Linked DNA regions of Homo sapiens: all the other regions are linked to region 1. Evidence: fine-mapped expression QTL. A gene starts in region 1. Each other region holds a variant in brackets. All regions are shown on one strand. Distances are between the middles of the regions. Region 1 holds the start of DDX31 (DEAD-box helicase 31). Region 2 holds the start of MIR6877 (microRNA 6877). Region 3 has its middle 38 kb from the start of GTF3C4. Region 4 overlaps DDX31 (DEAD-box helicase 31).

Region 1 (8,102 bases):
CCAGGCATCATGATTCTACATTCTAGAGGCCTCACAACAATACTATAATCCCTTTTATTAACTGCATCCTCTTTGCTTTAGAAAACATGTGTATGCTGGAAACTTACTCTTTCTGCTCAACATTATAGTTTTGCCTTGTATAGTCTTAATCCACATGGATTTGGTTTTTTATACATAGTGCGAGATAAGGTTCCAATTTCAGTTTTTAAATTCACACAACCACACAACCAATTGTTCCAGTGCCACTTATTAAAAATGTCAGCTTTTCCTAAGCAATTTGCAGTGTCATCTCGGTCATGAATAAAATTTCCATTTTTGTATTGGTCTGCTTCTGGGCTCTCTTTTCTCCTTTGCTGGTCAATTTGTACAGTTTTGCACCTTATTCCAGACTGTCTGAAGAAATAGAGCTTCATAATAATTCTTAATTTTTGATAAGTTAAAAAAAAAAAAGAAAACATCATGTGTAGTGATTCCAATTTTGAGTTGTTCTCTAAAAGGACATACACCAAAATGGCAACAAGCATTGTCTGAGTATGGCAATTATGAGTGGGTTTTTAAAAATCTTTTTTCCTAATTTTCTATAATAAATTTGTATTAATATCAGAAATTTTTTTTTGTTTTGCTTTTGTTTTGAGACAGTCTCACACTGTCACCCCAGCTGGAGTGCAGTGATCTCTGCTCACTGCAACCTCCACTGGTTCCTGGGTTCAAGTGATTCTCGTGCCTCAGCCTCCCGAGTGGCTGGGATCACAGGCACCCACCACCACACCCAGCTATTTTTGTGTTTGTTTTTTGTTTTTGTTTTTTTTTTTTGAGACAGAGTCTCGCTCTGTCGCCCAGGCTGGAGTGCAGTGGCGCAATCTCGGCTCACTGCAAGCTCCGCCTCCTGGGTTCACAGCATTGTCCTGCCTCAGCCTCCCGAGTGGCTTGGACTATAGTCACCCACCACCAGCCACCACACCCGGCTAATTTTTTGTATTTTTAATAGAGACGGGGTTTCACTGTGTTAGCCAGGATGGTCTCGATCTCCTGACCTCGTGATCCACCGGCCTCGGCCTCCCAAAGTGCTGGGATTACAGGCGTGAGCCACTGCGCCAAGCCTTTTTTTTGTATTTTTAGTAGAGATGGGGTTTCACCGTGTTGGCCAGGCTGGTCTCCAACTCCTGACCTCAAGTGATCTGCCTGCCTCGGCCTCCCAAAGTGATGAGATTACAGGTGTGAGCCACCTCGCCCAGCCCAGAAAGTATTTTTAGAGAGAAAATTTCTGCATAGTGTTAGATACAGCATAATTTAAGCTGTTAGTCTTTCTAAATCCAGTATATTAGCTACCCATCTCAAGTTCAGGCTACTGGCAAGTCTCATCAGCATATCCATCATTCTCATTCACGACATCAATGAAAATGTAGATCTAGGCCTGGCTGGCTCACGCCTGTAATCCCAGCACTGTGGGAGGCCGAGGTGGGCAGATCACAAGGTCGGGAGATGGAGACCATCCTGGCTAACACACAGTGAAACCCCATCTCTATTAAAAATTCAAAAAAATTAGCCGGGTGTGGTGGTGGGCACCTGTAGTCCCAGCTACTCAAGAGGCTGAGGCAGGAGAATGGTGTGAACTCAGGAGGCAGAGCTTGCAGTGAGCAGAGATCGCGCCACTGCACTCCAGCCTGGGAGACAGAGCGAGACTCCATCTCAAAAAAACAAAACAAAACAAAACAAAAAACGTAGATCTAGACAAGGCCACCGCAGACACCTGTCATCACTGCATTAATTAATCCCCTTTTGATAACCATAAAACTAGGTAGCCTATATGTATTTACTCAATGCTTCTTATGTGTTAGTTACCAGGCTCTGCAGAGGACACAAGCACCCCACTGACCTCCTGATGTAGCAATCTATTATCCAAAATGGAGCCAAAACTACTTTATACTGTTGGCATTTATTAAGTGCTTCTATGGGCCAGACAACGTATAGTCTTCATGTATACTATCTCAATGAATCCTTACAATAGTCTTCTATGGAGTAGAAATTATTGTTCTCATTTTATAGATAGGAAAAGTGAGAATCAGAAAGATTAAGTGACTTGCTCCAAGGTCACAGAGCTAGTGTGCAGCAAGGGCAGCATCCGAATCCCAAGTGTATCCTATTCCAAATCCCATGCTCCCAGTGGCTCTTCTATCCTTCTCCCCGCTCCACCCAGATGCAGCTACACTTGGCTAGCTGGACTCCTTACTGCCAAACATCTAAATCCTAAAGTTTGATGATCACTTTATGATTTTAATCAGTCTTTCTGTCCTGTAGTCCTCTTTTCTAAGAGACAAATCAACTATCCTAGAAACCAGTTTTCAGTTACTGCTTAAGTTAATTCTAGGGCATCTTACCCCTCTCTAGCAATGGGATTATATCAATGAAACCGATTTTCCTATCCCCCTCCATTGCATGGGGATGAAAATCTGTCCCATTTTTGAAAGCTCTTCAAAAAAACTCCTAGTTGCCAGTCCTCATTCCTGAAACAAACGAACCTTCCTCATGGCGACCAAAAGAGTTAAACTCAAAAATATCTGAAGAGACTTATTCTGAGCCAAGTATGAGTGACCATGGCCCATGATCCAGCCCTCGAGAGGTCCTGAGAACATGTGCCCAAGGTGGTCGGGGTGCAGCTTTTTTTTTTTTTTTTGAGACGGAGTCTCGTTCTGTTGCCCAGGCTGGAGTGCAATGGCATGATCTCGGCTCACTGCAAGCTCCGCCTCCTGGGTTCACGCCATTCTCCTGCCTCAGCCTCCCGAGTAGCTGGGACTACAGGCGCCCACCACCACGCCCAGCTAATTTTTTGTATTTTTAGTAGAGACGGGGGTTTCATCTTGTTAGCCAGGATGGTCTCGATCTCCTGACCTCGTGATCCGCCTGCCTCGGCCTCCCAAAGTGCTGGGATTACAGGCGTGAGCCACCGCGCCCGGCCGCGGCTTGGTTTTATACATTCTAGAGAGGCATGAGACATCAAATACATTTCAGAAATACACTGGTTTTGTCCAGAAAGGTGGGACAACTCAAAGCGGGGGCTTCCAGGCTATAGGTAAATTTAAACATTTTCTAGTTGACGGTTGAGTTTGTCTAAACACCTGGGATGGATACAAAGAAAATGCTCAGGTTAAGATAAAAGATTGTGGAGACCAAGGTTCTTTTCAAGTCTTTAGTGGCTGCCCTTAGAGACAACAGACAAGTGTTTCCTATTCAGATCTTTGAAAGGTGGTAGACTCTTAATCTCTTTAGGATTGGGAGGGCCTGGAAGAAAAAGATCTAGCTATGTTAATAGAGATTCTTTGCAGATGCAAATGTCCACCCCGCCCGCCCCCCCCAAAGAACAGCTTTGCAAAGCCATTTCAAAATGTGGCAAAGAAACATGTTTAGGGGTAATATTTTAACTTTCTTCTTTGTCACATAATGTTAGGCCAGAGCCAGTTTGGAAAGTAAGTCACGATATATAGGGTTAAATGAAAGCCATCTGATGAGAATTTATGGTTTGTAGGGCATGACTCTTCCCAGACAGGAATGTGGGCAAGATAAAAAAAAAAATCAGAGCTTAGTCCGCACTCAGTCGAGGAAACTGGCTTAGAGAAGTTAAGCTTTGGCCTGGGACTTGCGCCGGAACTTCAGGTCCTACCTTCCACGGGAAACAGCCTCTAATTCCTTCCTTTACTTTTCTAGGCGCAGGAGCCAGCTCCCCGCCCCTCCACACCGCTCCACTCCCCGCTTCCAGGCGCATCCCTGCGGGTGGTGTTCCGGTTAGAGACACGTGTTTCGGCGCAACTTGTCCCGAAGCTGCCCGGTGTCTTTCTCCCGCTTAACTCCGTGAATGACTCGAAACCCGACTCCAAGGCACGGCTGCAGCTCGCGGCGCGCCCACAGCCGGGCCGCGGGTGGGGACGGAGCTGAAGCCGGGTCAGAACTCACCCGACTCGCCTGGGCTGGGGGACGTCTGGAGAACGTCCTGGGGTTGTCGAAGAGCGAACCGTCGGCGGCTGCCATGGTCTGCGTGGGTGACGCGTGGTGCAGCAGCGAGCCCGGTGCGCAGACTGCTGGGCCCGGGACCCCACGTGGGACGCGCGAGGACCCTGCGCCACCGCCCCTTCCGGGTCCGGAACGGCTCCAGCTGTACGGACTCGTCCCGAGGGGAGCCGGGGACGGCGGCACCGGGCGGGTAGGGACAAGACTACCGCGCGTGCCCCCGCCTGGTGGCAGCCCCTCTCTGCGTCCCTCGCGGCCTGGCAAAATTACATTCGGCCGAGAGTTCACGCTGGGGAAGCTCTCTGAATGCCTCTGAGAAGCGAGATCCGGCGCCATCTCACCGACGAGCCTCCCCTTTACCGCCCCGTGCGTTTCCTCAGCACTTTAGGAACTAAAGCCTGTCTGGGTAGCTCCCTAACAGGCTCTGGAGCTCAATCCCTGGGCAGGGAAAAGGGGGTCCTCGGGGCTCCCCGCTCGCTGTCCTTTTTCTGGACAGGCAGTTCCTTGGCCACCTGGTAGGGCCGCGTTGCCTGGCAACGGCGGGGTCCTTCTTGGCTCGGCGGCGCTCGGGGCCTGAGGGGAGAAAACCGCCGCGGAGGGCGCTGGGGGTGGCGGCGGCGGTCCGGGAGGTGGTCGCGCGACTGCGTGGAGCGCCAGGGCGTCCGACCTCTGCACCTGAGAGAAGATGAACACGGCCGACCAGGCCCGGGTGGGGCCCGCGGACGACGGGCCTGCGCCGTCTGGGGAGGAGGAGGGAGAGGGGGGCGGCGAGGCGGGCGGGAAGGAGCCAGCAGCGGACGCGGCCCCGGGGCCCAGCGCTGCATTCCGCCTCATGGTGACTCGGCGGGAGCCGGCCGTGAAGCTGCAGTATGCGGTGAGCGGCCTGGAACCGCTGGCTTGGTCCGAGGACCACCGCGTGTCTGTGTCCACGGCCCGCAGCATCGCTGTGCTGGAGCTCATCTGCGACGTGCACAACCCGGGCCAGGACCTGGTTATCCACCGCACCTCGGTGCCCGCACCGCTCAACAGCTGTCTCCTCAAAGTAAGTCATCCCCCGCCATCCCTGGGGTCTTCCCCTGTCCCCCTCTCGCGGCCGCATCATCCGTCCCAGGGGAATCCGATCCCACACTCTGTCCGGGGATTTCCCTCTTCGCACCGAGCGCTGGGGATTTATTAAGCAGCCAGGGTTACCACAGCTTAAAAAAAAAAAAAGAAAAGCTCTGCAGCTGTCTGCACCCTGTTTCCCCAGGTCACCCGCCGCCGCAAACACAGGTACACACCCAGGGGGCTTCCCGGAGTTGAGTCCCAGGAACCCCTCCTTCGCCCCTCCGTCGGGCCCGCACATGGAGCGGGTTACTCGATGGTGCTTTCTGAGACTCCACCCCCTGTAGATCCAACCCGGGGCCTGCCTCTGTCGTTGCTGCTATTGTTTGGGGCCGACTTTCCGAGGTTCTTGGCTGGCTTTGTCTACTGTGTGTGTCCTCCTCTCGCGCCTCTTTAGCTTCAGAAAAGAAAAACTGGTCCCATCCATTGTCTTAATTGTTTCAGTGACTTTATTATGAATGGTCCTCGCCTCTCCTTGGGCAAACGGGTAAATACTGGATCTCGGGGTTTGTACTTTAGTTTTTCTTTACTAGCTAAACATCTTTGGGATGTTGAATGAAAATAAAGATTCGAAACAACTACCTATCTTAAACTTCAAGCGCAAGGTCAAGTAGTAAGCCATAGCGTTCCTTTTAGTTGCTTAGAGGTGTAAAAACTTTCCATATATCCTTGATAGAGGTGTACGCTTACATGTGAACTGTCAGTGTATATTCATACATTCAATAGATATTTGAATACCATTCTGCTTGGTGCTGCCCCATGTTCTGGAAATAAAGCAGTGTACAAAACAGAACCCCTGCCCTCATGAAGCTTACATTCTTTGGCAAGTCAAGCACAAATGATAAGGTCCTGTCAGGTAGTGATAAGCACTGTAAAGATGTGTATCCGCACATAGAGAACATGTTTATGTGTTCGTAAACTCTTATTTTGGAAAACCATTGAAAATATGAGTCATTAGCTATAGGTAGGGTGCAGATAACCCTCATCACTTTGTAGCATACTTAATTCAAGTTTCAAACATCTTTCTGTTGTTAGATTGTTAGTCAGCTTGTATGACTAAGCTTCCTCTAAGATCTTCTTGAAGAAGATATGAACACATTTGTTCAAGTGTAAACAAATCAGATAGACAGATGCAACCCTATGAAATTGAGAAATACAAAAGGAGGGAGGCAGAAGAAAGGTGATTTAAAAGGTGTATCTTCTGCTGTAAAGGAATTTAACTGTTTCCAAGGATGTTCATCCGCACAGCAACTCAAGGAAAGTATGTATGTCAGTATAGTAGACATCGAATACCTTAGCAGAGAGAATGTAAAGAAAGGAGGGAGTAGTAAGGGGAGAGACTTATGGGGCAGGTCATCTGGTGGTGAATCTGCAGCAGTCCTAAAGAAGGTAGTGTTTGGTTTGTAAGAGGAAGGAAGGAAAGGGCATTCCAGGCGGCAGGAATGAGGCATTCATCCCATGTGCATACACGTTTAAGTCATGAACATAATTAATTATTGTTTGTATAATGACGGATCAGTACATGAGCTCAAGTAGGTCTTCTAGAGAGTCCGAGAAAGTAAGATGAGACCAGTTTGTGGACTTGGAAGGTCGGTATGAGGAAGTTGGCTTCAATCTAGGAAGTCTTTAAGATGCTGTTACAGTTTCATTAGCATAGAGTGACCTGCTGTGGTTCAGGAACATTACTGGATAGAGGCAAGAAGATGATTGTTGTGATCAGTGTAAAATAAAAGTGAAGAGACTGGGCTTTGGCACAAGATAGGCCTATCTATAAAAGGGGGATAATGAAGCGTTGTTTAGGTTTTTTGGAAGATTAAACACACATAATCACTTGGCCCAGTTCTTGGCACGCTGTAAATGCTCAAGGTGAAAATATAATGAGTTGGGCCGGGCGCGGTGGCTCACGCCTGTAATCCCAGCACTTTGGGAGGCCGAGGCGAGCGGATCACGAGGTCAGGAGATCGAGACCATCCTGGCTAACACAGTGAAACCCCGTTTCTACTAAAAATACAAAAAATTAGCCGGGCGTGGTGGCGGGCGCCTGTAGTCCTAGCTACTGGGAGGCTGAGGCAGGAGAATGGCGTGAATCCGGGAGGCGGAGCTTGCTATGAGCCAAGATTGCGCCACTGTACTCCAGCCTGGGCGACAGAGCCAGACTCCGTCTCAAAAAAAAAGAAAGAAAATATAATGCAGTTATACAGGTATGAAGGAGTAGGAGTCTGGATTAATGTCGTGGTTGTGGACATGAGTATTCTGATAAAATTTTGACTGTCATTTTGCCTCAGTTAACATTTACCACAACTGCTAACTAGTAACAGGAAATCCTTATATAGCTCTCTTATAGTTGACAAATGGCTTCTATGAAATTAATTAGTAACATCTTCCCCTTCTGTACTGTTGTTTTTTTTTTAATATGCACATCACATAAACCATCAGTCATTTAGCAGTCTTTTTAGACTGATTGAAGTGAATGAATGCTGAGTTGACCCTGCAGTTCTACAAGAGCCCTCTGTGGGTTAAAACTGGTGTGACGGTAGGAATGTAAAGAAGTCTGTGTCAGCACTTTGATGACTCCACCCATTGGCAGTCTGTGGATTTAAATCTGCTCGGTGCCGTGCAGCATGCCTTCGCGCTAACCTAAATGGTGGACAGTCTGCAGCGCAGATGACAGTTTTAGTGTAGCACTGTTAGAAAGCTAGGTACTAAACACCTTTGAAGCTTTTGCTCTATAATTCTGTTATTTAGATTATGAATTTGCAGGAAAATCTGCAGTTATGTAATAGTTCAGACATTAATTATCAGCTGTTTTATAAGATTGTATGATATAAAGGTGGACAGTATAAATCTGAAAAGCAATGAAATAGTGATTTAAGAATGTCAGAATTGTTTTTCCCATTGGACTACTGATTTAGTGACTCATCTAGTGAGACATTTGTGTATAGTTCCAAATTCTGATAATATTTGTGTACCGAATTGTATTGTGCATCAATTGTTAG
Region 2 (8,102 bases), 380 kb after region 1:
ACTGGAGGCTGCAGCCCAGACGTGGAGGAGAGTCTGCACTAACCCCGTGGACCGGAAGGTGGAGGAGGAGCTGAGGAAGGCAAGTCCTGCGCTGCGCCTGGCCCCGGTGGCTCCAGCCTCTCTGTTGGCTTCCCGTGTTTACCCAGCTGCTCCCTGTTCCTGGCTGTGGGGTTGGCTGCACTGACCTTTACCCATTCCTTAGTGCATGGGAACTTCTCACCTTCAGATGCCATGTCTAAAGGCTGTGTCGGTATAAGTTCTACATTCCCAAGGTTGAAAATGCTTCTTAGAGTTCTTAAGAAAAATATGCGTGCGTTGTTCAGATGTGACATAAACGTGGAGCTCTGGGATCCACTGAGCTCTTATTCTTCCATTCACTCATTGCAGCCAAGCCAGTGGGGCACCTAGTGTGCCAGGCCCAGCACTTTCTTACCGTTAGAACTGGAACCGTGCTGCCAGGCAGCCCTCCTTCCCCGGGCTTGCGGGTGCCGTGGAGTCCTGCGTCCCCACTGGCATGAGCATCAGGTTCACAGGCCACTGCCACCTGGAGCCCGGCGCTTCCCTTACGCAGTGTGCCTGTGGGAGACCACGTGGATGTCTTGTTGATTTCCAGCAGTCACTGGGGCACACTGTCAGTGGCTCCTTATTGCCCACCAGGCACAGCCCACATTCCTGACCTGAATTGGCTCGTGAGGCCCGCTGCCCCAGCCCCCTGGCCCTCTACACTCCGGCCACACTGACCTTTGCAGTCCTCCCCGGGCCAGGCTGTCCCCTTCAGCCCTGACGATGTCCCACCTCAGGCACCTGTTCTGTAGATTGGGGCAGCATGGGGACCCTGGGACTCTAGCATGTGCCCCCTGAGCCGTACTCCCCACCGCGCTGTGGGCTCTATGAGGACAGCGACCATGTCTCTTATCGTTTGAGAGACCCAGCCCCACAACTGCACTTGGCACAGGCTGGGCATGCAGCCCAGGCTTCTGAGGGAAGGGATGAATTAGTGAGAGCAGGAGGTCCTAGGGCCACGCCCTGTGTGTCCAGCCCCTGTCCTCTACCAGCTCCTCTCTGGAGGGGCCGCTGGGGCCCAGAACATGTTGGGAGTTCAGGGCCGAAGGGTGGAAGCTGCTGGTGCTCATCTCAGCCTCTGCCCTTGGCCTCCCCAGCTGTTTGACATCCGTCCCATCTGGTCCCGAAATGCTGTCAAGGCCAACATCAGCGTCCACCCAGACAAGCTCAAGGTCTTGCTTCCCTTCATAGCCTATTACATGGTAAGTGTCAGCTGCCCACCCACCTGCCTTGGTTTCCACCCATGTGGTCCCTGGTCCCTGCTGTGATGTCTTAGAGCCACAGTAAGAGCAGCCAACCCCCTATCCTGGCTCCCCATCCTTCCTGCCCCACCCCCATCCTGGCCCATCCTTCCTACCCACCCCTGGCCTGGCCCTCATCCTTCCTGCCCTGCCCCCAACCTAGCACCTCCCCCGTCCTGGCACCCCCATCCTTCCTTCCCCCCTGTCCTGGCCCCCCGATCCTAGCATCCCTAAGACAGCTTATTAAAGCCAGCTAGAAAAGTTTCAGCTCCCTGAGTCCAGGGCGCCCTCCACAGCCTGTTGGGCTGCAGAACCCAGCCCCTGACCACAGCGGCCCCATGTCGTCCTCTACCTGTGTTGAGTGGGGTTCAGTGGGAGGCAGATCCACCTTTGATCCACAAGCATGTAAAGACACATGTCATTACTGAGGTTCCAAAGGTGCTGGTTGGAAAGGGATCCTCCCCGCTGCCAGGCCTCACAGAGCATTAGGGGAGGCCAGCGTAAGACATGACTGTGAGGGTCTGCAACAGGCAGTAGGACACAAGAAAGACTCATTTCTTCTGCCTTGTTGGACTTCCGGCTCAGGAGAGCGACCTGTGCTGCTTGGCGTTGGCATTTTATTTTATTTTATTTATTTTATTTATTTTGAGATGGAGTCTCACTCTGTCTCCCAGGCTGGAGTGCAGTGGTGTGATCTCTGCTCACTGCAACCTCCGCCTCTGGGATTCAAGTGATTCTCCTGCCTCAGCCTCCTAAGTAGCTGGGAGTACAGGCGCACGCCACCATGCCCAGCTAATTTTCTTTTTTTGCATTTTTAGTAGAGATGGGGTTTCGCCATGTTGGTCAGGCTGGTCTCGAACTCCTAACCTCAAGTGATCTGCCTGTCTCGGTCTCCCAAAATGCTGGGATTATAGGCGAGAGCCACTGCGGCTGGCTGGCATTGGCTTTTTAGACATAAGCCATTCAAAAGCTCCGTTTAGGGACAGAAGATGTCTCATCGATTAGGCCAGTAGTAACATTGGGCACTTAATATGTGCCAGGAACCATGGTAAAGGCTCCACGGGCGCTATCTCATTTAATCCTCTGAAAAACCATGGGAGGCCAGGCATGATGGCTCACTCCTAGAATCCCGGTACTTCGGGAGGCTGAAGCGGGAGAATCGCTTGCATCCAGGAGTTTGAGACGAGCCTAGGCAACATAATGAGACCCCATCTCTACAAAAAAATTAAAAATTAGCTGGGTGTGGTGGCTCGTGCCTGTAGTTCCAGCTACTTGGGAGGCTGAGGTAGGAGGATCACTTGAGCCCAGGAGGTTGAGGCTGCAGTGAACCGTGATTTTGCCACTGCACTCAGCCTGGGCAACAGAGTGAGACCCTCTCCCCCAAAAAACAAAAACCCACAGGAAAGGGTGCTCCTTTTCCCTCCATCTGACAGGAAGACCAAGGTTTGGAAAGGCCACGTGCCCTCACCAAGGTGACAGGGCCTGCATGTGGCAGAGCAGGGCTGGGCATCCAGAGCCCTGTCCCCAGCTCCTGAGCTCTTCTGCTGCCTCACTGTAGGCTCTGGCCCGTCCAGGGACCTGGGCCTTCACCTCACCTCACATTTTCCCCACTTTTCTGTCCCAGATAACAGGCCCCTGGCGCAGCCTATGGATTCGATTTGGGTATGACCCCCGAAAAAACCCAGATGCCAAGATTTATCAAGTCCTCGATTTCCGAATCCGTTGTGGAATGAAACACGGTAAAAATTCCTGAAAGCTTTGCTTCCTGCCTTTCTCTCTCTTTATCTTTCAGTTTCTAGCATTCTCTTTTGTAGTAAGAATCTTTTCATTTGGAAAGAATAAAAAAACCTTTTGCCCCCGTTGCTGAGACTCTTTTGAATGCAGAATGGCGTGGAAACGAAAGTCCTAGTTCTGTGCTGGCCCCACCACTGACCGCCCGTTTCTGAACCACAGTCCCTCATTAAGTGACTCCACGTGCCCTATGGTCCTGTGATGCAGGCCAGGCACTTGTGAGAGCATCAGTGCCCGCCCTGCCTGGGAAGTGCTGAGATGTGTTGGTGACCGCAGTGGCGTGCTTGGCAGTCTGGGGTTGCCCTCTCAGGAGCTGGCCCCATGGACCCAACTCCCATCTCCAGTGTGAAGCCAGTGTTGTGTGCCGACGGGCCCTGTGCCCGCCCACCTGACTTGCCCGCCCTCGCCTACAGGTTACGCCCCCAGTGACTTGCCGGTCAAAGCAAAGCGCAGCACCTACAACTACAGCCTCCCCATCACCGTCAAGAAGACATGTAAGCGTGCCAGGCGCCTTTTGTGGGTCATGAGTGATTTGCCAAGGAAGGCGGGGCACCTGGACCCAGACGGGGAGGTGGTTCCTGGGGGTCACTCCAGGGCTCTGCCGGTCATTCCTCCCCTAGGAGGGGGTGGGCTGGCAGGAGGGCAGGGCATGGTGGTTGGGAGAGACACCTCCTCCCCACCCTGCACATTCCAAGCACTGCTGTTGTCCCCACGCAGCCAGCCAGCTTGTCACCATGCATGACCTGAAGCAGGGCCTGGGCCCGTCGGGGACGAGTGGTGCTCGGAAACCAGCTTCCAGCAAGTACAAGCTCAAGGTGGGCGCCCCTGGAGGCCAGGAATGGAGGGGAGGACTTCCCTCTTGGGGCCGGGCACCTTGTGGGTGACACCTGGGGGGCTGTGATTAGGGCAGCTCTGCCCACCGGGGCCTCGGCACCTTGCTTCCTTTTAGGTCAGCCTTCAGACACTGAGGGTGAGAACTCGGGTGCAAAGCCCCAGGGCTGTGTGTGTTGGGGACATCTGGCGAAGAGGTGGTGACAAGTCTCAGGGAAGTCTGGCACCAGCAGCTGCATGTGGTTGTCCTTCTCGAGCCCTTTGGGAGCCTGGGCCCCCACTGAGCCACGTGACCACTCCGGGAATGATCGGAATTGGGCACACACAGGAGGACAGAGCCAGAGCAGGCCATGTGGGCTGCAGCTGTGGCAGGAGCCTCACTGGCTCACGTTTCCGTCAGTGCGGTTGCCCAGCGGGGGTTGGCGGTTTCCAGAGCTGTTCCCACATTCAGGCTCCCGCAAG[C/G]CGCTCCACAGCCCTGGGGGAGGCCGAGAAGGGGGCATCCCGCACGGTGGAATCACCTGCTGAGGGAGTGGGTGGCAGAGATGAGTGCAGCAGAGACGGGTGATGCGAGGGACTTGCTGTCCCCCAGTGTCTGGGGCCCTGCCTATTTTCTAGGTTTTTTAGACCTTTGCTGCCTTCCCAGTGAGGGGCGATCATGCCACAGCCTGTGCGGCCTTCCTTCTCGAGGCCTCTCCTAGGAGGCCGTTATCCTTACTCTAGAACTACATGGCTGGGTACGGAAAGGAGAGAGCAAACACTCACTAAGCCCTGCTTTTCCCAGAAAAGATGTCAGGGCAGCCCATAGGGGGACATAGGGTGACAAATTAGCAGCAGTGGGTGAGGGATAAGGTCAGAGTGCAGGAGGGCACAGAGAGCAGAGCCCGGCACAAGGCTAGTGCCAGCCCCATGCCATGGGCGCCATGGCCTGCTGCACGGGCGGGCTCACCGTTTCCAGTGGCCCCAGGAGGGCCTGGGTGCTCCTCTGCCTCTCCCAGAGCCTCCTGGGGAGTTGGACATTGTTTTTTCCCCAACTCCTCCGTGGCCTTCCAGCCTGTCTGCCCAACCTGCTCCTGGTGACCAGCCAGCTCCCTGGAGAGACCCCATGGGAGCCTACATGGAGTCTGCAACACTGGCAGCCCCAGGGCTCTGGCTCACCTTCCCTGTCTCTCTCCCCCTTTGTCACCAGGACTCTGTCTACATCTTCCGGGAAGGGGCCTTGCCACCCTATCGGCAGATGTTCTACCAGTTATGCGACTTGAATGTGGAAGAGTACGTATGGGAGGGGCCCTGAGACACTGAGGGGGGCCCGTGGGACCCAGGGACCAAAGCGGTCTCTGAACTCTTCCACTTCACGTCGGCCTTCATCTCCGGCAAGAGCACTCGCCTGTCTGGGAGTTTGGTGCTGCCGAGAGCCCTGGCATGCTGGTGGCCCTCGTAGAGGCGGTGCCCTATAGAAAGCCGTGGCTCCAAGCTGCGCAGAGACAGTTCTTACTGTTATGTCCTTGCTCCTCTTCCACTGTCCACATAAAGGCCCCATGAGGTGGTTCTCAATCCCAGGACCCATCAGATCCCAGAAACCTTTTATCGACTTGTTCTCAGTGATGTTTAAAGAATTGCAGGGAAAGGGCACTCACTGGGATGAGAGGAGATGGGAACACATCAAATACATCTTGAACTCTGCTGAAAGCCATGGTTCACCAGAAGCATGTGCAGTGGTAACACGGCCAGCTTCATGTGTGTGAGGCGGTCCAGGGAGCACACAGGTTTAGGGCCCCAGCTGGGAACACACAGCTTGTGTTTCCAGTTCCTCTCTGTAGACTTCGCTCACGGGGCTGCCTTTGATCTCAGTACAGCTCTGCCTCTGGCAAAAACCAACACTGGCATCTCTTAGCAGAGACCCGCCCTGGGACTTTATGTCCCAACCCTCTCCCCACCCCCAGGTTGCAGAAGATCATTCACCGCAATGACGGGGCAGAGAATTCCTGCACAGAACGGGATGGGTGGTGCCTCCCCAAGACCAGCGACGAGCTCAGGGACACCATGTCCCTCATGATCCGGCAGACCATCCGCTCCAAGAGGCCTGGTAAGAGCCGCTTGGGGTAAAGGGGGTCCAGGATGCCTGGTGATCTCCTTTGAGACAGAGGTGTCCCTAAGGGGACCCATTCCTGGGAAATGGCACCCAGGTGGCATCATCTTGCCCCTGGCCCTGGTGGGAGGAGGACATTGTGAGCCAGAGCCCAGCCCAGGTGCTGGCATCACCCCAGCTGCCCAGAGGCTGCCTCAGCCGAGGCCCTCAGCCCTGCGGTCCGGGGCAGGAGACAAGCCCAGAGGGGCTGGGTGCAGCAGCCTGGCACTGCCATCGGGGCCTCCACCTGACGCCCTCACACCAGCCCATGTCTTTCAGCTGTGCATGCGCAGGCTCTGCCTCTGTCTTCTTCCTGTTCTGTGTGGCCCAGCCCCTTCCTGGAACCAGGCAGCCCTGGCAGGAGTGAGGGCCAGCTGCAGGGAAAGTGAAGGGGGCAACACCTGCCAGGCTGTGGGTCTCACGAGGCTCGGGGGAGTTATAAGAGGCCCCCTCTCTCAGGGAACTCCTCCCAGGCTTGGGGAGGAGGCATCCTGGACCCAGCCACGCCCCACAGATCTGACCGAAGCAGGGGTTCTTGGTCTTGCTTGGAACCCAGATTCAGCCCCCTTTGGGAATCTAATCAAGGGTGTGGACCCTTTCCCAGAGAAAATGGTGTGTTCACTCCTGAGGGTCCATGGGCCCTTGAAGCTGCTCATGGCTCCCCTGCTGCAGGATTCCCCTGGGTGCCCGTCAAACTACAGCTTCCCTGGGGGGCCTCCACCCCATACTTACCCACCAGCTTCTTAAGAGCTCGAGCTCGGACCCTTATAGTAGTAAACAGGCTCCCCAGAGCCTGGTGGCCTTTCTGGGGCCACCCGGCAGCCTGCATGGGACACCCATGGCCTTGTCTCCTCCGGCCCCAGCTCTCTTTTCCAGCTCAGCCAAGGCTGATGGCGGAAAAGAGCAGCTGACGTACGAGTCTGGGGAAGACGAGGAGGATGAGGAGGAGGAGGAAGAGGAGGAGGAGGACTTCAAGCCATCCGACGGCAGTGAAAACGAAATGGAGACAGAGATTCTGGACTACGTGTGACAGGGCCCAAGGCTGGGCCTCCCTGACCCGGCCAGACTGGTGTCTGGCCTAATGAGGGAGCCGGGGCTCCCCATTGCCACCCACAGTGCCCGGAATGGCCCTAGGAGGCCCTCTGAGGAGAGCTAGAGTCCCAGCAAAGGGTGCAGCTGACCCTAGCACTGGCTGTGACATGCTGCTTGGTGCTGCCTCTGGTCCTGAGGGGTTAGGGACATCCCCAAAGGGTATACCCTGGCTCTGCCACCCATGAACCAGCCCAGCATCCAGCCAGTGAGTGGGCACCCAATGCCTCTCAGGATGAGACCAGTAAATGCCGGAGGTGGAGCTGGGCAGCTGTGGAGCCCCAGGCCACAGGCCAGTCTCGCTTGGCTCTCATGACTGTGGTGGTGGAGATAGCGTGGGGAGCCTCGCCCATGGTCTCACGTGGCAAGAAGTGCCTTTAGCTCTGGATCCCAACCGTTTGGCACAGCTTTGGCCACAGCCAGGCCCCTCTGGAATTGTCCTTATTAAACCAGTTTCCCGAGAAGTCTTGGTTTCTTGGTGTGAATGTTGGCGCTGCAGGGGAGTCTTCTTATTGCCTTGGGGCTTGGGCCCCCTTTGTCCCTTCATATATTCCTTCATTCATTCCTTCATTCATTCAGTGACATGCTGGCAGTGCTGGCCTGTGCCCCCCTCACATGTGGTCGGGTTGGGTGAGGGCAGCTAGGAGGACTCCAGGCCTGGGGTCAGTTCTTCTCTAAATGAATACCTTCTTGACAAAGTCATGGGAAACGGGCCCTGCTGTCCTGTGGCTGCCCAGTGTGAAACTAGTGGGTCCTGAGCCCACCGAGCCTGCCTGCCTGGCCCCGCTCCCCATGTTGCCCTTGGCTGAGGCACCTCTTGTGTCTCCCCAAGTCGGCAGCAGCACTCCCTCCCAACCTGTGTGCGTGCCGAGTATTTGTTGAAGAAACAGTCAGTTGTCAGAGAATGGCCCTGTTCTGGATTGGCTGGTTGCTTCTGTGTGGTGCTGAACCTGCTCCTCTCT
Region 3 (8,102 bases), 38 kb after region 1:
ACCACACCTGGCTAATTTTTGTATTTTAAGTAGAGATGGGGTTTCACTATGTTGACCAGGCTGGTCTCAAACTCCTGACCTCAAGTGATCTGCCCACCTTGGCCTCCCAAAGTGCTGGGATTACAGGCATGAGCCACTGCACCCAGCCTCCATCCATTTAACTTTCTATGTTGCTTTGGAACTCTTTTAATTATCACTCTGGTTAAGTAAATGACTATTATTTTACAGTGACCTGTGATTCTGTTTTGATCAAGTATTTCAAACTTTTTGACATCTTTGACAGGTTTCCCCAGGATCAAAATTCTAAATTAAGTCTTACTGACCTAAAGTTAACTTTGGGATTTTCCAGTTGGGCCCCTGGAGAGCCTCAAAGGATGTATTTCTTATCTTGTAGAGATGCTAAATGATTAAGCTGATGTGGTCATTGTCAAATGATAGTGAAACTAGATCTTCTTTCAGTTATATTTATTGGTGTATTATTGATGTAAATGTTCCAAAAATTATATAAAATCACAAAATCTGATTTTATCAGTCATAATTTTGGTTACATTAAATTTTTTCTAAAGTGATGTTTGTATGGATGTGTTATTAATGGGAGTATTCTAAAGACTACATGAAATTTATAGAAGTCTGATGCTTCTGATGTGATACTATCATAGTCAGGATTCTGGTTCTCTCACCTGTGGAGAAAGGGCCAAGTGGAAGCTCCTAAAACTTCTGCCACAGCCAAGATAGTAAAACAGAGCAGGCCGGGCATGGTGACTCATGCCTGTCATCCCAGTAATTTGGGAGGCAGAGGTGGGCGGATCACCTGACGTGAAGAGTATTGAGACCAGCCTGGCCAACATGGCAAAACCCCATCTCTACTAAAAATATGAAAATTAGCGGGGTGTGGTGGTGCACACCTGTAGTCCCAGCTACTTGGGAGGCTGAGGCAGGAGAATTGCTTGAACCTGGGAGGCGGAGGTTGCAGTGAGCCGAGATTGCACCACTGCACTCCAGCCTGGGTGATGAGAGTGAAACTCTGTCTCAAAAAATAAAATGAATAAATAAAACAGAGCAATGCTGTAACTCAGGTGGAATCCTAAAGATCAATGTCACCTGCAAAGATTTAAAGATCGGGGAGGTGGTGGCCTCCGTCACATCCCTGCTTAATGTGCCAGGCTGGTCCCTGTCCAACCTGACGGATCTGACAGAGGAGGGGGGCTACCATAAATGCAATCAAGCCGGGGCCCCACCTGCAGCTGTTGTGCCAGACATAAGGTCTTCACCAGAGTATACCCACAGCCCTGGCAACTGATGTGTGCTGCATTGATGAGGCAAAGGCATTATTTTCAATCCCCATCAGAGAACAGGATCAAAAACAGTTTGCAATCTCCTAGGAAAGACTGAAATTCACATTTGCTGTCTTGCCCCAGGGTTCTGTTAACTTGTGTGAAGAAACTGAGGCTAACCTGACCCTGCTGGGGGATGTTATAGGATGTACCAGACACACTGCAGGGGCGACTATAAGAGGCACTGGTAATGCAGCATGAAGACCAAAATGTCAGAGCCAGCGTGATAAAGAATTATGACAGTCAGGCTGGACGCGGTGGCTCACACCTGTAATCCCAGCATTTTGGGAGGTCAAGGTGGGGAGATCACTTGAGATCAGGAGTTCAAGACCAGCCTGGCCAACATGGTGAAACCTCATCTTTACTAAAAATGCAAAAATCAGCCAGGTGTGGTGGTGGTGCATGCCTGTAATCCCAGATACTCAGGCAGCTGAGGCAGGAGAATTGCTTGAACCCAGGAGGTGGAGGTTACAGTGAGATCGTGCCACTGCACTCCAGCCCGGGTAATGGAGTGAGACTCTGTCTCATAAATAAATAAATATATAAAGAAACACAGGATGTCAGAGCAAGCTCAACACAACTACTGACGCAAATTCAATATCTGCTACTGAAACTAGGATGTATAACAACTGTAGCTCCTCTTGATTCCACTTGAATAGAGCTAAAAATCCACTACAACTCATTAGCCACTTGCTGGCATTCAGGGTATTTTTTTGTTGATCAGTAATTACATTTGTTGATCATATATTTATAAATGGGTATGTTCCTTTGGATCTCGATTTCTTCCCCACCCAAACTCGTCTGCTCTTCATTACAATATAATCCAAAGACATTTGTCTTTCCGCTCCACAAAACATCATGCTGCTCTGTTATGTCGACGGCAGCATCCTAACTGGACTTGGGAAACAGGAAAGTGGCAACTGCTTGAATGTGGGGCATATGTGTGCCAGAAAGTCGATGAAAAATACTACAATGATTCTGGGTCCTGTAATCACAATGAAGTTTTTATGGATCCAGTGGTCCAAGGCATGCCATGGCATTGTCCTTAAGGCAAAAAACAAGTTCTTGCACCTTTTACTTCCTACCACTGAGAAAGAGGCAAAGAGCTTCTGGCAGCCTCTACCAGGGACCCAGCTCCGGCTCACTTACTGAATAACTCAAAAGGCTGGTAGCTTTGTGTGAGGTCCGTAGCAAGAGAGGACTCCAGGTCCAGGCTGGGATGCAAGCTGGCCTGTCACTTGGGCCATGTTACCCAGAAGACCCAGTGGAGCTAGACACATCTATTCTACTCGACATTGCACTATAGGTCCTGGTCATTCCAATAAGGCGAGAGAGAGAAAGGTATAAAGATTGGGGGAAAAGGGCCAGGCATCGTGGCTCATACCTGTAATCCCAGTGCTTTGTGAGACTGAGGCAGGAGCATCACTTGAGGCCAGGAGTTTGAGGCTGCAGTGAACCATGATCACACCACCTCCCTCCAGCCTGGGAGACTGAGCGAGACCCTGTCTCTTAGGAAAAAGAAAAAAAAAATTGGAAAAAAGATATCGTATTCTCAGTCAATATGATATGTAGCCTGGGCAACATAGGGAGATCCTATCTCCACAAAAAAAAAAAAAAAAAAAAAAAATTAGCCAGGCATAGTGGTCCATACCTGTAGTCCCAGCTACTTGAGAGGCTGAGGTGGAGGGTCACTTGAGTCCAGGAGCTCAGGCTGCAGTGAGCTACAGTGGCACCATTGCACTCCAGCCTGGGCGACAGAGCGAGACCCTGTCACAAACAAACAAAAAATATGATTGGGTATGAAAAAAGTATAAAAGAATCGACTGATAAGTTATTAGCATTAAGAGACATTAGCAAGGTTTCTGGATCCAAAACGAATACTCAAAAATAAATTGTGCAAATATTCATAGCAGTTTTAGTCACAATACTCAAAACCTAAAAACAACTCAAGTATCCATCAATAGGTGACTATAGAAACAAAATGTAGAATAGCTACACAACGGTGTGTGGCTCAGCTACAAAAAGGAACAAATCAATAATACACATGAGCCGCTTACTGATTGATTAACTTAGCTCCAGATTCACCCTTCAGTCCCCACCTGCTGTCATTGGCTGGACTCCATCCTTCTTGGCTGTGGGCACGATATTCAGCTTTGTCAAAAGAGGGTGCTCAGGCCAGGTGCGGTGGTTCTTACCTGTAATCCCAGCACTTTGGGAGGCCAAGGCGGGCGGATCACGAGGTCAGGAGTTCAAGACCAGCCTGGCCAACATGGTGAATGAAACCCCGTCTCTACTAAAAATACAAAAATTACTTGGGTGTGGTGGTGGGTGCCTGTAATCTCAGCTATTCGGGAGGCTGAGGCCGGAGAATTTATTGAACCCGGGAGGCGGAGGTTGCAGTGAGCCGAGATCGCGTCACTGCACTCCAGCCTGGGGACAGAGTGAGACACCGTCTCAAAAAAAAAAAAAAAAAAGAAAGAAAGAAAGAAAGAAAAAGCGGGCGCTGGAGGGAGCCTGCAGAAGGCAGGGGCTTGTGGATCTGCTGCCTTTTCCTTCCTTCCTCCCTTCTTCTTCCTCTAGCATCCATGTACGTAGAGGACCGCAACGGTGCCCTGCCCCAGGCTTGGCTGCATGTCTCCACCCTGAAAGTAGCTGGCCTGTGGTTCCAGGATCCGCTCACACTGGCAGGGTGTGACCAACTCATCCTGGCTCTCCCAGAACCGGCCTGCTTTGAAAAGTGGAATGCCCATGTCTGGGAGCTCCCTCGGTCCCAGGCAAACCGGGATGCTTAGTTTCACCACAGACCAGACTCCTCCAACACAGCTTTTAAAGGAAGAGGAAAGCCCAGAACTCCGAGCTCCTCTCCCCAGGTGCTGAAGGGCCATGTTCCCACCAGGACCACAGCCCAGCCCTCCACAGCTAACGACAGAGGTGGTTGTGTGTCCGTCTTCAGGTTTTGTTCCCTTTTCCTCCCTTCCCTCTTTTCTCCTAAAACATGCGAAGGAAACTGGGGATAAGAGGGAGGCTTTCGACAATATTAGGAACATCTCTGACGTTCTTTCTCGAGAAAACGTAACATCTACCACCCTGGGTCCCCCGCTTAGGATCCTCACCGAGGACATCGATTTCAATACGGCGCTCCGAGAGCCCCTGGAACACCCCGGGGAAGTACAAGAGGTAGCGGCGAGTCAATCCAGGGACTCCAGCTGGGACCCCCGGCGAGTCCCTCGGCTCCATGCCCCTCCTTGCTTGCAGCTTCATCCTTGGAAACTGTTTCTCAAAGTGGTGCCTCGGCCC[G/A]TCTGCACGTGGAAGGCAAGAATCTGGGGGCCTCAAAATCTGCAGGCTGAAGGAGCTCCTCTGGTGCCGCTGACGCACACCGTAGCGCACCTGCGGCGTCTCGTGGCTGGCCCGTTCCCAGGGCACGCAGCTGCACTTCACCAGATGACGCCGATTGTCTCCTAGAGTGGTGGTGCCTGGTCCACCTCATCACAGTCTTCATGAGTTCCCCTTGCTCCCCATTCTGTCAATAGTAGAAGCGGCCAGATTTGTCAAATTGTTGCCAGTCTCAGAGCAGTACCAGTATCTCATTAGAACCTGCATTTCCCTGATTACTAATGACGTGGAGCTTTTGTCATGTATTTTATTGGCTAATCATGTTTTCTTCTGTAAAATGCCCATTCATGGGCCAGGTGCAGTGGCTCACGCCTGTAATCCCAGCCCTTTGGGAGGCTAAGGTGGGAGGATCACTTGATCCCAGGTGTTTAAGACCCCATCTCTTAAAAAAAAATAGTTGGGTGCAGTGGTGCATACCTGTATTCCCAGCTGCTTGGGAGGCTAAGGCAGGAGAAGCACGTGAGCCCAGGAGTTTGAGGCTGCAGTGAGCTATGATCACACCACTGTACTCCAGCCTGGGTGACAGAGCGAAACCACCTCTAAAACACACCAAAAATCCCATTCATGTCTTTTAAATATTTTTCTCTTCAGTTGTGTGTGTATGTGTGTGTGTATTGCTACTTAAGCCTGTCTCAAATGTATTCAGTGGTTTCATTAACATATACCATGTACAATAAAGGCCACAAACTTAAGTGCACAGCTTAGGATTTGAGTGTAACCGCTACCTGGATCGATACAGAACCTTTACATCACCCTAGAGTCCTTGTGCCCCTTCTCAGGCATGTCCCTCTTAGAGATGATTGCTATTAACAGTGCTTAGTTTGATCTGTTCTTGAACCTCATATAAATCAAATCATAAAGTGTGTGCTCTTTTGTGTCTGGTTGCGAGATTCATCCCTATTGAGGCATTTATCAGGAGTTTTTTATTGTCATGTAATAGTTTATAGCATGAATAAACCATAATTGATAGACACTTGTGCCATTTCCAGTTTGGGGCTAACATGAATTAAACTGCTTTTAACATTCTTATTCATGTCCCTTTCTATACTTATGCACTCGTTTTGTATATGCTAGGAGAGGAATTGCTGGGTCACAAGGTAGGCATGTTTAGCCTTGGCAGATAATTTCTTAACAGTTTTCCAAAGCAGTTAAGCCAATTTCCACTCCCACCAGCACTGTACAAGAGTTCCCACTGCTGTACGTTCCCTCCAACACTTGGTATTGTCAATCCTTTTAAATTCTGGTGGTGGGTGTGCAGGCATATCTCATTGTGACTTTTAATTTGCAAAACTTGGATCGCCAATGAGGTTAAGCGTTTTTTGTGTAGTTAATTGACCATTTGTGTTTTCTCCTGTTAAATACCTGTTCGTGTATGTTTCCATTTGTTTATTTGAATGCTTTTGACTTGGTAATATTTAGGAGTTGTGCACATATTCTGGACACTAATACTGTTTGGGTAAATGCATTGCAAATCTTTCCTCCCAGTCTCTCTTTCTTCCCTGGGTGGGTGGGGGGACTCTGCGCTTTGCCTCCAGTGTTCCATGTGTGGACAATTTTAACTGAAGATCTGGGCCATCAGGCTCAACACACACTTGTACGGCAACTCCGGCTTCAGCCTTCACCCGTCTGTCTGGATTCCTGCGTTCATGTCCTTTTTGGCCCTGAATGTTTCCTGCTAGCTCAGTTATAGTTACCAGCCCCCAGCCCTGTCACCATATTTCATTCAGAATTTTTAGGGGTTTGTTTTAAGAGGCATAATCAGGATCTCTAAGCTGCAGGTTGTCAGAACTGGAAGTCACCAGTTACTTTTGAATTTTCTTTCTTTCTTCCTTCCTTCCCCCTTCCCCTTCCCTTCTGACAGTCTCGCTCTGTTGGCCAGGCTGGAGTGCAGTGGCACAATCTCGGCTCACTGCAACCTCCGCCTCCCAGGTTCAAGCAATTCTCTGCCTTAGCCTCCTGAGTAGCTGGAACTACAGGCACATGCCACAACATTTGGCTAATTTTTGTATTTTTTATAGAGACAGGGCTTTGCTATGTTGGCCAGGCTGGTCTTGAACTCCTGGCCTCAAGTGATCCATGTGCCTTGGCCTCCCAAAGTGCTGGAATTACAGGTGTGAGCCACCATGCTCAGCCATGTTTGAATTTTCATGTTCTAACTATAAGCATCCTCCACAAAAGGCAAAGATCCTCAAAGTTCAGGTCCGCAGACACTTGATCAACGGTGGGATGTTTGCTACAAAAACAGATTTCCAGGCCCCGCCCTGAACTTGTTAAATCAGAATCTCTGGGGATAGAGCCCAGGAGTCTTATTTTTTATTTAATTTATTTAAAATTTATTTATTTATTTATTTATTTATTTATTTATTTTAAGACAGAGTTGCCTAGGCTGGAGTGCAATGGTGCCATCTCAGCTCACTGCAACCTCCACCTCCTAGGTTTAAGTGATTCTCCTGTCTCAGCCTCCCGAGTAGCTGGGATTACAGGCACCTGCCATCATGCCCGGCTAATTTTTTTTTTGTATTTTTGTAGAGACAGAGTTTCACCATACTGCCAGGCTGGTCTCGAACTCCTGATCTCAGGTAATCTGCCCACCTCGGCCTTCCAAAGTGCTGGGATTACAGGTGTGAGCCACTGTGCCCAGCTGAGTCTTTTTTATTTTTTATTTATTTATTTATTTTTGAGACAAAGTCTTGCACTGTCACCCAGGCCGGAGTGCAATGGCGTAATCTCAGCTCACTGCAAACTCCGCCTCCCGGGTTCACGTGATTCTCCTGCCTCAGCCTCCTGAGTAGCTGGGATTACAGGCGCACACCACCATGCCTGGCTAATTTTTTGTATTTTTAGTAGAGATGGGGTTTCACTATGTTGGCCAGACTGGTCTTGAACTCCTGATCTCGTGATCTGCCCACCTCAGCCTCCCAAAGTGTTGGGATTACAGGCATGAGCCACCACGCCCGACCTGAGTCTTATTTTTTAAACAAGCATTCCAGATAATTCTTACCTGCTGAGCTATTGCCCTAGGGACAGCCTCTCCTGGAGAGCTGCTCAGAGACAAAATTACATGCTTTGAGTGGCTAGAATACCCATATGCAAAAGAATGAAGCTGGACTCCATCCTCACACCATACAGAAAGGTTAACTCATAATGGACCACAGACCTACATGTAAGGCTAGAACTATACAACTCTGAAGAAAACATAGGAGCAAATCTTTGTGACTCTGGGTTAGGCAAAGCCTTTGTAGACACCAAATGTACACGTGACAGAAAAAATAGATATGTTGGACTCAATCCAAATTAAAAACTTTTGTACTACAAACAGCATCATCAAGAAAGTGAAAAGACAACCCACGGAACGGGAGAAAGTATTTGCAAATC
Region 4 (8,102 bases), 55 kb before region 1:
GAGATCGAGGCTCGGAGACGTTAAGAAAAGGGAAGGCCCCAAACTCACATCAGAACGGAGCCGACTTCAATCCAACTTCCCTGACTGCAAGACCAATGGTCACTTCCCTCCACTGGGTGGTCCCTCTGTCTTTGCCGTGACAGGCTAGAGAAACGGGGCCCTGACAAGACTGATGGAATAACTGACACTTCCCGGTGAACGGAGAAGCCAGACATCGTGTGGGAACAGGAAGCACAGAGTGGTCCTTCCCGGTGAACAGGCAAGCTGGACACTGGGCAGGAACAGGCAGCTCAGAGTGGTTCTGCCTGCAGATTCCCAGAGTCAGTGGGGGAGCCTGCGGCGTTTGTAAATTAACGTGGAAAAGGGAGGATAAACAATGCAAACTAACCATCCACAACGTTCTGGGATTGAACCCAGAAATCAGGACAGGTGAGAAAAAAAGTCTCTGTGCCCCAAACATTTGTTCAACGGACCGTTCCCACATAAACAATGAGACCATCCGCCCCAAAGTTCTGACATGAGTGGCTCACAGGGCCTCACGCGCTCTGGCTCCTGTGAGGGCTGAGGCTGGTACTAAAAGAACGTCTTTGAGGAGAGGAAGAAGGCCTTTTACAAATGTAGCATGCTGAGGGAAATCATCTCAGCACTGGGAAAACAGACTCAGAGCCCAGCCTCGAACAGGGCAATACCCCTCCCTCTCCTTCCTCTCCCCAGGACCTCTGGACAAGTCCTGAACATGCTCTTTTTGGGAGGAAAGGGCTCTTTTTGGGAGGAAAGGGGAAGGGCTCACCGCTCTTGCCTTGATGAGCGCTCACCACTGGAGGTGCAACTCAGCAGCAAGGAGCCCAGCACTGACCCCAAAGCCAGCCTGTTAGAGATCTGGGCTTCAGCAGCTCCTGGAATCTGAGGCTGGGCACTCAGCCCTTCCATCTCACTGGAACAAGGTATGCTCCCAGGCCTCGTCACACAGAACACACCAGAATGTGTCATACACATCTCGGATGCTTTCCAGGGCGGACCGCAGCACAACTGAAGCTCCGACTACGTTTGGGCCCTATGAACCCCACCACATTTGGGCCCAAAAGGAGGCACCCCTGAATTTCTGCAAGATGAGGTGGCTTTCTTCTCATTCCAAGTGCTTGTTTATTGGGAGAAGGGCAGGTATGAGTGAGAAGAGAGTTGCGGTGAGCATGGCAGCTAGCACATCACATCATGTGAACGGAGCTCTCTAGCCCCGTCACGGGACGAATTCAGCTCATCTTACCTTTTCACGTGTGCTTTCCTCTTCTTTCTAGTCAAGGCACTAAGATTCCTGGGGGCATCTCTTAGTCCGAAGCTCTTCGCCACATGCCCAAGGTGGAGGGATCGGACGTGGAAGATGTGCTTCAGCTCCCTGGGGTAGGTGGCGTAGGCTTGGATGAAGGACTGCAGAGCTGAAAGAAAAGAGAGCGGGGAGGGAAGCTGTCAGGACCGGGGTCTCCAAGCTCCAAAGTGCCCGGCCTAATGGTTATCTTCTGTACTTTATCTTGCCAGGCAACGAAACATGAGCAGGACAATTACAACATATACAAACAACTAAAATCTAGACTTCTGTGTATTTCTTCAATTCCTAAACAACAAAAAGAAAAAAACTACAGGGGGCCACAATTATTACTTGAATATGCCCGATAAAATATCAGATTTGACCACACAGCTCCTAACAATCCCACAGGGTGGGGCCCAGCACAGCACCTGGTACCAGCAGGCACTCGGTAGATGTCTGTTGTGTAAATGAGTGAAAAGAGAGAATAGGTGAAGAAACTAAGAAATGATCAACACAGGACATCGTTTTCTTATGAAAATGAGAAAATCATTAGACATTTATATTAACACATTTTTCCTAATTAAATTTTACTTACTTTTGAATAGTTAATGCATGCTAGTCTGTTACAAAATTTACAAAGTTCAAAAGGCTGTCTTATGACTGTCATGTTTACTATGAATGAATGACATTACCACCAATGCCCCCTTCACCACAAGCCCCACCTCCAGCTCCCTTATCCATAGGCAATCCCTGATACCAGTTTTTTGTGTACTCACTGGACTTTTTAAATTTAAAATTTTTTAAAGAGATGGGGTCTCACTATGTTGTCCAGACTAGAGTGCAGTGACGTGATCATACCTCACTGTAGCCTCAAGCTCCTGGGTTCAAGTAATCCTTGTGCCTCAGACTACAGGCTAATTTTTAAATTTTTATTTTTGTAGAGACAGGGTTTCACTATGTTGCCCAGGCTGGTCTTGAACTCCTGACCTCAGGTGGTCCTCCCGCCTCAGCCTCTCAAAGTGCTTGGGAATACAAGTGTGAGCAACCTCACCCAGCCTTCCTCATGGGATTTTAAAACCAAGTTCATTCTAAAAGTATCCAGGATTAACCAATACAGAGCTTCTTGCTCAAAGAATGTGTAAAAAAGGGAATGAAACAAATGTTTAAAGGAGAAAGAAAACTACTAAGTCTCTAAAATAGTCCCTTGAGGACTGACAACAATTTAGGGACATTCATCAAACACTACGTCAGGAAAGTTTCAGTGCCGTTTTAAAATTAAGAAGAGCGGCCGGGCGCGGTGGCTCAAGCCTGTAATCCCAGCACTTTGGGAGGCCAAGTCGGGGGGATCACCTGAGGTCAGGAGTTTGAGACCAGACTGGCCAACATGGTGAAACCCTGTCTCTACTAAAAATGCAAAAATTAGCCGGATGTGGTGGCAGGTGCCTGTAATCCCGGCTACTCAGGAGGCTGAGGCAGGAGAATCACTTGAACCTGGAAGGCTGAGGATGGAGTTAGCAGAGATGGTGCCACCGCACTCCAGCCTGGGCAACAAGAGCAAAACTCTGTCTCAAGGAAAACTAAATTAAATTAAATTCAGAAAAGGGGGTCCTTGTTGTAGGTCCCTCCTCCCTGAGAAAAAGGCCAGACTCATTCCCAGGAGGGTGGAGCTTTGGTCTACTTAACTAGGCATTCCCTTGAGGAAAGATTCTCGTAGATTGAATATCTGGAAGTAACAATGAAAATCAAGTGTCCACCCGCTTCTCACTCCAACAAGGAAGGAGGGGGACATCCTGCAAACACTCCCCGCCATCCCTGTCACTGCTCTCTTCACCTCCAATCCTGCTCTTCTGCCAGCTGAGCCAGAGCCCAGCCGATGGTGTCTGATGGAGGCAAGCACTGAATGCCAGCCTTCGCTTCCTCACTCTCCTTGTTGAGCCACTGGACTGGCAAGTTTGCCCACAGCTTAAACATAATATCCCAGCAGCACCTGGAGATTGGCGTTTATGAACAGTAATAAAAAGTGTCATTTTAGCAGATCAGCTCCTGGAAGGATCCTGGGGAATCCATCAAAGCTCTATTTACTGAGTAAAGTGAACTCCTTTTCCCAATCGATGAGCAATAATAACCAAGGCAACTCCTCTGTACCCTACTCTTAAATCTGTGCTTACTCCCCTTTTTAATAACTAGGGACTTTTTCAAAGAAAATCTTTAACGCTTCAAATGGTCTGTACTGTTTGGAGTACACAGAGCCCCACTAGATACAGAGCCCCACAGCCAAGCCCTCAGAGGGAAAGGCTCTACTGCTACGCGACCCAGGAGATTCAAGCCTCTTCTCCTCAACCTTTCTTTCCCCAACCCCCAACACTCACTCTGGTCTCAAAAAAGACAAGACCGAAACCAAGTCAAGCCGAAACCATGCCAAGAGCCTGCACTTTTAAAATCTCAGTTACCCAAATCCCGCTCTAGGTCTCTTCATTTCCTACCTCTCTTCTGTGTATGCAGATGAGTCCCTGGGCTTCCACCCTGGTCACCTCTCTTCCTCTCCTCCTCTCCACCAATCCTATGAGCTGAGCACTGAGAGCATCTGTCCCAGGAGATGTAGGTGCCCAGCTAACAGCTTTACAGGGATAATGAGTTTGCCAAGATGTGGCAGGAAGTGTTTTCTCCCCAGACAACTGGCCAGGCAGCATTTCACACTGCATATTTTTACTAAACCTCCTTGTCCTCAAGGCTCCTGTCTCACCGGGGACAGCGACAGTTGGTTGTTCTCACATACTTGCATGGACTCCCATGTTTGGA[T/C]AATTCAGAGAAGCAGGAATTTCAAAGACGCTGCAGTAGCTGTCTGCAGAACCTTTCAAGGAGCAGGAAGTGCTCATGTTGGCAGCGTCGAGAATGTGCAGAAGGAACAGGGGCTGTGGGACCCACACAAGCGGAAGGTGGAGAAGTAATGAAAGCAGACATTTATTTGGGGTGACGGATGAAGCTACAGGCCACCAGAGTTCAGCACTTTGCAGTCACTGATTCCTATTTCTTGCCAACTACTTAAGGTGCCTGAATTAGGGCAAATCTATTTTCAAGTATCTCACATGGACACATCGTCCTTTTTCATTCCTGGACATTTGGATCAGAAACTAGTGGTATCTTATGATGACTTGTAAGATGAAGGAGACAGAAATAAACAAACCTCCAGCCTGGAAGGTGAAGATCATCTCTGCTCCTCCCAACCCCACCTCCACTCCCACAAGAGCACCCTTCAGTACAGAATAAAGGCACACGCATCTTCAAGACCACCCAACACCTACAGCGACAACTACGGAAAGGATGGAGGAAAAGGAGGTTCCCTGCTGTTCTCTTCAAGACAAAGCATTTGGTAAAGTGCCCAGCCTAGCTCTGACCCCACTGAGGGGAGAAGAATGACTTGTCATCACTGGTGTGGGTTTTCTAGACTTTGAGAAGCATCCCTTCCAAACAGGCATAAATCCTACATGGAGTTCCTGGTCTGCAGGAAGACCTGAAGATGGAGAGGATTAAGCCACAGAAGCAATGGTCATTTGCAGGCAGAGGACTCTAGCTTCCAAGATTTTTGTTCGGGAATCTGGAATTCAAACTTATGTTACCACTCGTTTTACAACTTGAATCCCTAGCTAAATGATGCAAGAAAACAGAGGAAAAAAGGGGTAACTGCTTCTGGAAACTGACAGTTAAATGCTGGTTATTAACAATGACTGGGTCCAAAAATGCAAAAGGAAAACAAATACATACTTGGCCCAGTTTCTAACTAGTTTTCTGCCATCAAGGCAAAAGCCAGCTGCTTTGTTAATTATTCAGGAGGTGGGTTCTGAAATGGCATAAAAGGGAAGCAAGTCAATAGTGGGGAATTTGCATATGCAGATTGAAATGCAAAAGAGTGTCTCCACCTATGGGGTGCAGTGGCTGTTCCTATGCAGTAAATTCAATACATTTAGGGTGGCAAATACGTGTATACTCTCTCAAGCCTCCAAAACTCAGTCCTAAGAAACAGGAGAGAAGGAATGGTGGCGAGACTTATGTCTGAAATGGGGTGACTGAGCTCTGTAAGAGGCGGTGTTGTCCCAGCCCATTATCAATCTGGTGTGGAAATTGATTAGCAAATAAGAGACATGATACGTTTATTTCCTTCATGGTACATAAACATTGGGAAGTGACCCTGTTCCAATATTCCTTAAACAAAAGACAAGTGACCCTGCTTGTTTCATGGTATTAACAAGTTCAATGGTAATAACAGTGAAAGAAAACCCAAAACCACATCCTTTAAGAATTACTGTAACTTCCACTCAGATGACCGAGACACCTTGAAATAGTTGTAGTCTTGCCAAAATATCTGAGGCATCACTGACACCAAAATCGAAGGTGACAGTGTGGGTTTGATTTATTTCTTTCCACTGCAACTTTGATACCAGCCCTGGAATTCAGCAGCACAACACCTTGTTATGTACTGCACAGCCAGCTGAATTTGCCTAACTTTCATCAAAGGTCCAAACTGTAAAGTTACACTGTGACAAAGACCCTATTCCTCTTGAGAGACACAGAGCAATACTCCTCTAGAGGTAGCAAGGTAGGAAAACCCTTGGGAATTGTTGAATTCCCTTTAGGGAAATGCCAAGACAGGATATTATTAGAGAAAAGTCTAGAAGGATATACAATGGCAATTACGGGGACTTCATCTTTTACCTTGTGTGGTTCTGATTTTTAACGACAACCAAGAATTGCAATTATAATGTGCTAAAGGTATGTAACAGGTCCTTGACAATATTTGCTGACTAACCCATTTTTTCATCTATATTTTCTGGTGACCACAATTGCTCCTCAGCCAGGCTCCCAGCTTTCACACTTGCCCCCGCTAGAGTCTATTCTCACACAGCAGCCAGGTGATCTCTTTCAAACCTAAGTCAGATCCCACACTTCTGCTCCCCCTTCATTCCGACCAAGACCCAAAGTCCTACGTGATTCTGCCTTGGCCAGCACCCCCTTTCCACCCACACTGCCTTCCTCGAGCTCGTCTGCACCAGCTCCCACTGCCCAGAATGCCCTTCCTTTAGAGAGCCACGGGGCTCATCCCACTTCAGGTTTTTGCTCAAGTATCACCTACACAATGAGGCTCACTCTGACCCCATTAAAAATGCACTCTGCTATGTCACCCCTTCACCTCCCCCATCTCCTTCTACTTATTCCATAGCTCTTGTCACCTTTAAATGGACTAATCTGTTATGTTTATTATGTTCACTGTCTGCTGCCCCTGCACCCCACTAACATGTTGGCTTCACAAAGCAAGGATTTTTGTTTTGATCTCGCATGCATTCCAAGCACTCAGAATAGTGCCCGATTTGATAAATATTTGTCAAATGAATGGTTTTTAAAGCATTTCTATTTATAAAAAGAAAGGATGCTACAGTGTTCCGATATTGGTAAGCCAGCCTGGCACTCTTCTCAAAATAGCAGGCAACTAACAAAAAAACCCTGTGCATACTCCAGCATGGAGTAAGTCTCATTAGACATGGTCAGTCTCTGGCCAAGACATCCCATGATAAAAAGTACCAGTGATTACAAACCCCCTTCAGCCATACACTGCTTATTACTCAACGTGAACTGTGAAGTCTACATCTAATGTATGGTGATCCCAGGAGCCAACTTATCCAACAAAGGGTCTGAATATTAAGTCAACACCTCTCTCTTTCATAAATTTCCTAGGAATTGGGTTCATGGTCTATGGCTCTTCCTCAGTACTGTTCTTTCTCGTTTTTCTTTGTGCCTTCAAATAGGAACTGCTTAGGTCTAATATTTCCAGCTCTGGCCTTCATCTCTAATTTCCATCTCTACAACTATTTCTACTAACGTGTCACATGTCTTCTATCTGGTTTTCAAAGAAAGAGGAAAACAGATCCTTAAGATCCAAGTTGTTGGGTCAAAACTCTAGTCCCGATATAAGCCAAGATAAAGCCTCATTTGTGCAAAACATGGGGAAGGATGAAATTAACATTTAATATCACTTTAAAGCCTTCCGTGCCTGCTTCCAAACCCTGCAGAATTATGGAGATTGAAGGCTTTGGCTGGTGAGCAGGGACCTCCATGTTGGCCTCTCAACCGGTTTGGGGGTATGTGGGTGAAGGTGGGGGAGAGCACTCTGCTGGGCTATCCACTGCGCAAGCACCTAGGAAATCGACTGACCTTTCTTTGCCCAGGAGACCCTCCTCTCACTGGAGTGCACGTAATCTTCAAATACCGTCTGCAAGACTGTGGCTCGCTCTCGGATTTCCTGGGGGCCAACAGCATGGGATTTCTGAGAGGGCGACGGAAGGATTAAAGGAGAGATAGAGTCAAGGTCAGGAATAATGAAGCAGTTTATAATAGATTTAATAACAGTAAAATCACACAGTAACCACCTAGGGCCAACAAGGGTAATCCTTTCAATATTACTAGGAAAAAAGGGAGCTATAGAGATGTCAAAGTCAAGTAAGGATGAGGGTGGCTTTATGAGAGAGAACATCAGGTCTGTTTACTTATTTACTTACTTTTCTTCCTGACCTCTTACCATGCATGTTCAAAATCAAAGACCATTGGAGACACTTTGGAATTTTCCAAGTCCAATTCAGACATTTAAAACATCACTGAACATGAGCTGTTTTCAAATGGGTCTTGGATCTCCTAGGAATCTTCACCTTTCCCTCACGCGCATCAGTGGAACACCGACAATTTCTCTTCATGAGCACTCCACAGTGACCTGCCTAACATTCTGCTTTTAAAAGTTACCCCATCCTTGAAT

The links. PIP is the estimated chance that this variant, and not a neighbour inherited with it, causes the effect.
Region 2: its variant is fine-mapped to the expression of DDX31 in lung (GTEx, PIP above 0.99). The same link has a PIP of 0.9 or more in unexposed skin.
Region 3: its variant is fine-mapped to the expression of DDX31 in amygdala (GTEx, PIP 0.97).
Region 4: its variant is fine-mapped to the expression of DDX31 in whole blood (TOPMed, PIP above 0.99).

What each region holds. Positions count from the first base shown.
Region 1 is chr9:132,665,912-132,674,013 of GRCh38, forward strand. It overlaps DDX31 (DEAD-box helicase 31), which reads right to left and starts at 4,072. Exons shown (of 20, transcript NM_022779.9): 1 at 3,949-4,072. The coding sequence starts at 4,023. It overlaps GTF3C4 (general transcription factor IIIC subunit 4), which reads left to right and starts at 4,553. Exons shown (of 5, transcript NM_012204.4): 1 at 4,553-5,044. The coding sequence starts at 4,688. RefSeq lists enhancers at 3,929-4,796, 4,482-4,561, 7,656-7,705 and silencers at 4,142-4,291, 4,712-4,841.
Region 2 is chr9:133,050,900-133,059,001 of GRCh38, forward strand. It overlaps GTF3C5 (general transcription factor IIIC subunit 5), which reads left to right. Exons shown (of 11, transcript NM_012087.4): 4 at 1-79; 5 at 1,161-1,265; 6 at 2,929-3,043; 7 at 3,509-3,589; 8 at 3,813-3,910; 9 at 5,113-5,195; 10 at 5,867-6,009; 11 at 6,915-7,604. The coding sequence ends at 7,081. LOC124902325 reads right to left here. Exons shown (of 2, transcript XM_047424377.1): 2 at 7,182-7,275. The coding sequence ends at 7,182. MIR6877 (microRNA 6877) reads left to right here and starts at 1,097; the gene lies at 1,097-1,160. The variant C/G (reference allele first, on the strand shown) is at 4,389.
Region 3 is chr9:132,704,281-132,712,382 of GRCh38, forward strand. No RefSeq gene overlaps it. Among named protein-coding and RNA genes, the nearest start is that of GTF3C4, 38 kb to the left of the region's middle. The variant G/A (reference allele first, on the strand shown) is at 4,632.
Region 4 is chr9:132,610,823-132,618,924 of GRCh38, forward strand. It overlaps DDX31 (DEAD-box helicase 31), which reads right to left. Exons shown (of 20, transcript NM_022779.9): 18 at 7,508-7,619; 19 at 1,265-1,433. Among named protein-coding and RNA genes, the nearest start is that of BARHL1, 32 kb to the left of the region's middle. RefSeq lists an enhancer at 3-735. The variant T/C (reference allele first, on the strand shown) is at 4,103.